Homo sapiens: one gene and its partner. The protein of the gene in region 1 interacts with the protein of each later gene in a pairwise test. Each region holds a gene or a part of one and is shown on either strand. Other genes may lie near its edges. The genes, in order: EPSTI1 and PTPRJ.

Region 1 (3,821 bases):
ATTTATAGTGAACACAAATTGTTTTAATGCATCTTCTGTGAGAGTGAATCTTTCAGAGAGCTGACACTTTTAGTGACCAAAGCACCAGAGAATTATTTCAAAGGAATCTTTATAATACGCACACCAAGCTTGCATAAACACTGAGAATTCCCTAAATGGTAATTCTTAGATGATTGTCAAGCTGCCAGGATTTCTGGCCCCAAATTCTTTTAGGTTTAAGAGAGAGCAAGTAAATAATCTAACATCCATATTTTTATTTTGACTATATAAGGAAAGAACAATAAATAGTATGGATTGATGATCAGTTACTAACTAGAATATTCCCATTGTATTTTTAGAAACTGGGTTATAAAGACTACATGCTTGTCTAGTGGCAAGACCTCTGAGAGCCTCCTGAGCCTTGCTGCTTGAATATAAGGCAATAGAGTTAGAAGAAGAAAAGCAATAGAAGCACCTTTGATCACCATCTTTACTAGGTTCGGGCATGGTCATATTCAAGCAGGAGGAATATTCTACAGTTTCCAAGACAGGCACTATTTCTTCTGTTTAGCACAGACCTTTAGGTATGATTTCAATCCAAGTGAAAACTTTAATACCTACATGATTGAAAAACCTTAGTAAAAGTGCTCTTTTGTTTTAAAAATATGGTCTCCTCTTTCTATCCAGCTCTTTCTTCTAAGTGATTCCCCTTCTTTAAGGTCTTCTTGGAAAACTGGTTATGTTCTTATTTGCAAGAGCATGAGAATGTTAAGGGAACTCATGTTATAGATTTATTATATATTAATTAGTCCTCGATGGCTGACATTTCAGCTTAATATTTATGTTTCACCTTCATGGATTTTTTTTTCCTAAGGTGGAAGCCAGTCAGAAACTGAAGTCAGACAGAAACAACAACTCCAGCTGATGCAATCTAAATACAAGCAAAAGGTCAGAATTCATCTCTTTTAGTTGAATTTTGGTAAGGAATATGAGTACCAGCTCTTACAAGTAACTGTGAAATAACACAGTAACTTTACCAAAAGTATAAAACCTTCCAACCAGTTGCAAAAGGCAGCTTTCAGAATCAAAGCTCTCAGGAAGTGAGAAGTGAAGAGATGGATACCTTCAATTCCTACCTAAGCCCTTTATCACTCAGCATGACCCTCGATTAAGGGAATTATTTTTTTCATTTAAGTTAACTATGTTTAACTATAGTTTAAAGTCTACTATGTTTGGAATGTTTTGGTTCTAAGAATATGGATTTGTTTACTGCATGGCAGTCATGGAAGTAGTACAAAAAATATTTAAGATTCCCAGCGATTTTTACAATGAACACTGAGTTTTGTAATCAGGAAAAATTATTTTCCCTTTTCCCTCCCCAATACACACACACACCACACACACATACACACAGAGAGAGACAGAGATAGACAAAGACAGAGACGTTGAAAAAGAGACAGACCAAGGAAGAAACACAAAGACAGAAATTTCACGGGCAGAAGACGTAGCCCGGCCATTCTCTGTGATCTAAGTAGCTTGAAGTAACAACCTATAATCATGGTGAGGTATAGCACAAACAATACTGTAATTTGCCTTTCATCATAATTTTGTGTTCCAGAGTTCAGACTGAAAAATGGTAACTGTTTTTGTTCTCTGTAATTTCAATACAATTTAGCTAAAAAGAGAAGAATCTGTAAGAATCAAGAAGGAAGCTGAAGAAGCTGAACTCCAAAAAATGAAGGCAATTCAGAGAGAGAAGGTAAGGAGGAGGAGGATTAGTTCACATTTGCTGATCAACAATTATAGTTTCGTTGTAGAAGATTTTTATTATAGTAACTTTAAAAATTTATCCATCTTTCTCTCTCTCTCTCTTTCTATTCCCCACTCTTCTTTTCCTCATCCAGTTTTTTTCCTTCCATTTTATCCTTCAAAGGAAGATTCATGCTTAGGTCTTGTGATTCTAGAGGAGGCACTCTCTTTACGGAGCATAGCCTGTATTTCAGGTAGAACAAAGACAATTGTTAAGTCATCACCAGGAACAGGGTGAAGAGGCTTGCAGACCCTTAATAATTATTGTATTGCAACCTCTTGTCCTAAAGATCATTTATTCGTTGTCATTTAATACCCATCATTGGCTGGCGTGTGGGTCATTTACAGCTAATTTCTTCATGGGTCAATAATGTACGCTATTCATAAATGTTTGTGGTTGAAACTGTTTCCTTTCTTTTTTTTTTGAGACGGGGTCTCACTCTGTTGCACAGGCTGGAGTGCAGTGGTGTGATCACAGCTCACTGCAGCCTCAGTCTCCTGGGGTCAGGCAGTCCTCCCACCTCAGCCTCCTGAGTAGCTGGGACTACAGGTTAACACCACTATAGCTATTTTTTTTTTTTTTTTGTATTTTTTGTAGAGACAGGGAGGGTTTCACCATGTTGCCAAGGCTGGTCTCGAACTCTTGGGCTCAAGGGATCCACCTGCCTTGGCCTCCCAAAGTGCTGGGATTACAGGAATGAGCCACCATGCCTGGCCTAAACTGTTTAAACATTGTCTAAAAGTAGTGTTTTTCCCTTTCCTAATATGATAACTGTAATTCTGTTGGCATAAATTTGCCAGGATGTGAGAGATGGGGAGAGAGAGTTGATCTGTAGACCCTTCCCATTGAAAATATGGCCCTTGAACAAGCACCATTGGCATCATCTGGGAGTTTGTTAGAAGAGCAGAATCTTGAGCCCTACCTCAGACCTACCGAATCAGAATCTGCATTTTAACAAGCTCCCCAGGTAATTCCTGTGCACATAAAAGCTCGAGGAGCATAAATTTAAATGACCTTGCAAAAGAAGGGGTGACCCATCCTTGTTCTTCCACAGATGTGATTTCTCTGGCTGATTGGCCTGCACTGTCACCATGATCCTAGCCTTCCCTGTTGTAGATAAATCTGTAGCTTTTCATGTTAAATGTGAGCCTAGTTAGTAGCTTGTGTCAGATAAGAAAAATGAACATTAGCCATCTAGAAATGACATATTTCACATTGCCAGTGTGGAAATGGCCGAGGGAAGTGATAATGGCTGTGCTTATGGAGCACTTATATTTTAAAATGCACAGCAAACACACACATGGACATCAGCCTGCAAACACGCTGCCCTCCTCCCCAGGCAAATGGCTGCTGCCCAGTAAACTCTGAGCCAAGTAGAATCCAAGCAGCCTATTGCCACCCAAGAGCCTCTAGCCTTGTCTCTGGTCTTCCCCCACTGGCTGCTGGTCCCCTTCTGCCCTTCATTTCCTTCTCTCCCAAAAGAAGTCAGGGGACACTGGGTCTCATTCTGATTGGTCGTCATCTCTGTGTGCAGCATTTAGTGAGGGAAGAATAGACTGGATTCCTTGCCAGCATTTGTGCATGTTCTTTGATCCTTAATAGACAGACAGGTGTGAAAGTCAACCAGCTCTTTAGTATCCAGTCATGTCAGTGGGGCCCAGGAAGAGTTAATCCTATGGGTACAAAGGGAAATTTGGAGACAGCACTGGTATACTTGAGTTGTATTCAGTTCAGGAATGTAACTTGCATTCCCTAGACTAGAGTCTGTCACAGTATATATACTTCTAGTGATGTTCTGTAGCTTCCTTGTACTGCCTTGTACTGTGGGAATTGTCACATTTTCAGGATTTTTTTGAGCTACTTGGCTTCATCATTGTCAGTTTGAAACCGACTGTGGTGGAAAATATTTACGATGTGGAAATCAGTAAATGCTACAGATTAATTTCCCCTCCTGCTCCTACCTGCTAGACCTGATTAAATGTTGACCAGCACACCACTGCTTAGCACTAAATGAAAAAGGTATTTTCTTACC
Region 2 (3,821 bases), on another chromosome or scaffold:
GAGGACATTATGCTAAGTGAAGCCAGACACAGAAGGACAAATACTGGATGATTCCACTTACATGAGTACCTAGATTAGGCAACTTAATATTCTACAGAAATTAGAATAGAGGTTACCAGGGGCTGTTCAGAGGAGGGAGTGGGCATTATTGTTTAATGGCTACAGTTTATGCTGGGGATAATGACAGTGTTTTGGGTACAGGTAGTGGTGATAGTTACACAACATTGTGAATATTGATGATACCGAATTGTACACTGACAAATGGTTAAGATGATAAATATTATGGTATGTATGTTTTACCACAATAAAAATGAAAAGGAACAAATATCTCTATTTTTCTAACCCAACTGAATTCCTTTTCTCTCTGTGTCCACAGTCATACATTTTGCTTGTATACTGTAATTATTATACAAATACTTTTATTTTGTATTTGAATTTCTTTTTACTCAGTCTATACCACAACTTTCCCCTATAGTTAGCATGGCCTTCATATTTTTAGTGGCTAAAGAGTATTTCATCATGCAGCCAGATCACAGTGCCCACAGCCCTCCCCATGTTATTGAATATTTAGGTTGTTTCTAGGTTTTTATGTTTATAGACAAAGGCTGCCTTTCATGGGCTTTTGTCTGTGGAATCCCTTTGACATCAGGAATCTGCTGGTAGGAAACAAAGGCTCCTCCCAGTGGCTTCTCTGTAAGGAGAATCCACTTAAAATTAAAAAAAAAATTAATTTTGGAGTAGATAGTACGTAAACATGGCACAATTTTTTTTGTTTTTTGGACAAGGTGTTTGCAGTGAAAGCATTTCCCTTTTTTGTCCCCTACCTGCCCATTTCCTCTCCCTGGAGGTGACGTTTGTTGCCAGGTAAAGAGAGACAGGGTTGAAAGCCGCGGTAGAAAATAGGCCCAGCCTCCGCGGTTACTTCCGGGCCTCTATGTAGGCATCCCTGGTGCAGGTGGCTGAGTGGGCAGCGGGAGATGATCGGAGGATGGGCTCCTGTGGGAGATTCCATTTCTGACTCTGCTCTGAAGGTGCAGGGTGTGCCTGTTTTCTTCCCTTCCTCATCCGTCCTCAAATGCTGCAACTTAGTAAAGGTCAGCTCTCCATTTCAGTTTTCCTCTTTGGTATGTAAGGCTGTGTCACGGGAAGATGTTTCCTTCTGAGTGACTGATTTAAAAAACACAACAAAACAAAAAAACCTCTTTATTGAGATATAATATACATACCGAAAAGGGATGTATCCTCAGCACATAGCTTCATGAACTTTTACAAACTGAACACATCTTGTTACCAGCACCCATATAAAAAAACTGAATGTGATTTCCACTTCAGATGACCCCTTGAAGGGCTTTTTTTTTTTTTTTTTTTTTGAGATGGAGTTTCGCTCTTGTTGCCCAGGCTGGAGTGCGATGGCGCGATCTTGGCTCACTGCAACCTCTGCCTTCCGGGTTCAAGTGATTCTCCTGCCTCAGCCTCCCAAGTAGCTGGGACTACAGGCATGCACCACCACGCCCGGCTAATTTTGTACTTTTTTTGATAGAGACGGGGTTTCTCCATGCTGGTCAGGCTGGTCTCAAACTCCCGACTTCAGGTGATCCGCCTGCCTTGGCTGCCCAAAGTGCTGGGATTACAGGCGTGATCCACCGCGCCTGGCCTTTTTTTTTTTTTTTTTTTTTTTGAGACAGAGCCTCATTCTGTCGCCCAGGCTGGAGTGCAGTGGTGTGATATCGGCTCACTGCAACCTCTGCCTTCTGGGTTCAAGCGACTCTTGTGCCCCAGCCTCCCGAGTAGCTGGGATTACAGGCGTGTACCACCACACCCAACTAATTTTTGTATTTTTAGTAGAGATGGGTTTTCACCATGTTGGCCAGGCTAGTCTCGAACCTCTGACCTCAAGTGATCCATCTCGGCTTCCCAAAATGTTGGGATTACAGGCATGAGCCATTGCACCCAGCCTAAGGGCTCATTTTTAAGACAACAACAAAAAACTGGAGAACTGGTAAGATAAACTGGGAAGTTCATGTGCGTCACAGAAGAGCTGAAATTCTTGAGAGCACTGAGTGTGTGCATTTCTCAGCTCGATTTTGGAGTGTGCCTTTTGTGAACTCATTAGAAAGCGTAATGGCAAAAGAGCAGGTCCTCTCGACAGCACTTGGAGAGGAAGCTGGGCGTCATGATAGTAACAGTTTTCCCTTCTCCTTCCTTTCTTCTGAGCAGTTCCCAGTGCAGTGTTTGACATCCACGTGGTCTACGTCACCACCACGGAGATGTGGCTGGACTGGAAGAGCCCTGACGGTGCTTCCGAGTATGTCTACCATTTAGTCATAGAGTCCAAGCATGGCTCTAACCACACAAGCACGTATGACAAAGCGATTACTCTCCAGGGCCTGATTCCGGGCACCTTATATAACATCACCATCTCTCCAGAAGTGGACCACGTCTGGGGGGACCCCAACTCCACTGCACAGTACACACGTAAGTCTCTTAGGATGCCCTTCTAAGGAACAGCCTCTCTAACTGTCTCTTGGAGGAGGCACTGGTTAAATGATGGCCAGTGTGCTTCTGGGATCCAGGTTGACTCTGAAACTGCTGAAGTTGAAAACATTGGTCTCAGCAATGGTTCTGCTGTCACCATGGGGCACTGTTCTTCAAGCTATGTGAACTTAGAATTGTCATTAGAAGGAAGAAATGATTCCTTGGGAATGGTGACTGAAATGGTTCTAGTCATTCCTTGAGAATACAGAGTAGAGAAGGGTCACCTTGTCATGTTGGTATTGGAAGATACTGCCCAGATGAGGAGCTTCGCCTGCAACAGTTAGGGAGGTGTTTTGCGAATATTTGAATTAAATACATGGTAAAGATGTTAGTTTGTAATATGTTTTTAGTATATTTTTCTCCATCTATTAGATTTAAAAAACAGATTAGAAATTAAATGTTAAAAATATATTTGAAATAAACTTGAAGTATTAAAAGAAGCCTAAATTAAACTTCTTTTGAGACTTAATCTGTATAATTATTTTCTTGATGTGTTTTTGGGAAGTTTTCCATCTTTTGAGCCAGCAAATACTAGTTTTATTCATTCTTTCTAAAACGAGCCAGGCTATTTTTGGATATAGTAAATAGTCCTGGAATTCTACTTAATCTGTGCTTTTACATGAATTGCCTTTTTTTTAAAATCAAGGGCCCAGCAATGTGTCCAACATTGATGTAAGTACCAACACCACAGCAGCAACTTTAAGTTGGCAGAACTTTGATGACGCCTCTCCCACGTACTCCTACTGCCTTCTTATTGAGAAGGCTGGAAATTCCAGCAACGCAACACAAGTAGTCACGGACATTGGAATTACTGACGCTACAGTCACTGAATTAATACCTGGCTCATCATACACAGTGGAGATCTTTGCACAAGTAGGGGATGGGATCAAGTCACTGGAACCTGGCCGGAAGTCATTCTGTACAGGTGAGTGTAGCCCCAACTGCCTCTTGGACTCCTCCCTGAGTGGTGCTGACCTTGCAGGTCAGTCCTCCCAAGTCTGTAGTTTGTCTGGTTTTGTGTGATGTGCAGTGATGGACATTGAGCTTTCCGAGGCATCCTGTTAGCTTATCGGTGCTGTCTCGATGCCCTCATCATTTCTGCATTCAATAAATATTTATTGAGCATATACCATATGCCAGTCAAGTCCTTGCCTTCTTGGAACTTTTCGAAGGAGGAAGTGGGATGTTTACCTAGAGTGCTCAGGAAAGGCCTCAATGACAAGGTGACTTTTGAGCAAAGATCTGAATGAAGGGAAGGAGCCAGCCATGTGGATATCAGGGCATGA

The links.
Region 2: the proteins of EPSTI1 (region 1) and PTPRJ interact in a two-hybrid assay, tested with the Homo sapiens proteins (one large-scale study listed by BioGRID and IntAct).

What each region holds. Positions count from the first base shown.
Region 1 is NC_000013.11:42,961,172-42,964,992, reverse strand, and holds part of EPSTI1 (epithelial-stromal interaction protein 1), read left to right. Parts: intron 1-853; coding exon 854-927; intron 928-1,654; coding exon 1,655-1,738; intron 1,739-3,821. UniProt on the Homo sapiens protein: Plays a role in M1 macrophage polarization and is required for the proper regulation of gene expression during M1 versus M2 macrophage differentiation.
Region 2 is NC_000011.10:48,133,822-48,137,642, forward strand, and holds part of PTPRJ (receptor-type tyrosine-protein phosphatase eta isoform 1 precursor), read left to right. Parts: intron 1-2,217; coding exon 2,218-2,475; intron 2,476-3,181; coding exon 3,182-3,460; intron 3,461-3,821. UniProt on the Homo sapiens protein: Tyrosine phosphatase which dephosphorylates or contributes to the dephosphorylation of CTNND1, FLT3, PDGFRB, MET, KDR, LYN, SRC, MAPK1, MAPK3, EGFR, TJP1, OCLN, PIK3R1 and PIK3R2. Plays a role in cell adhesion, migration, proliferation and differentiation.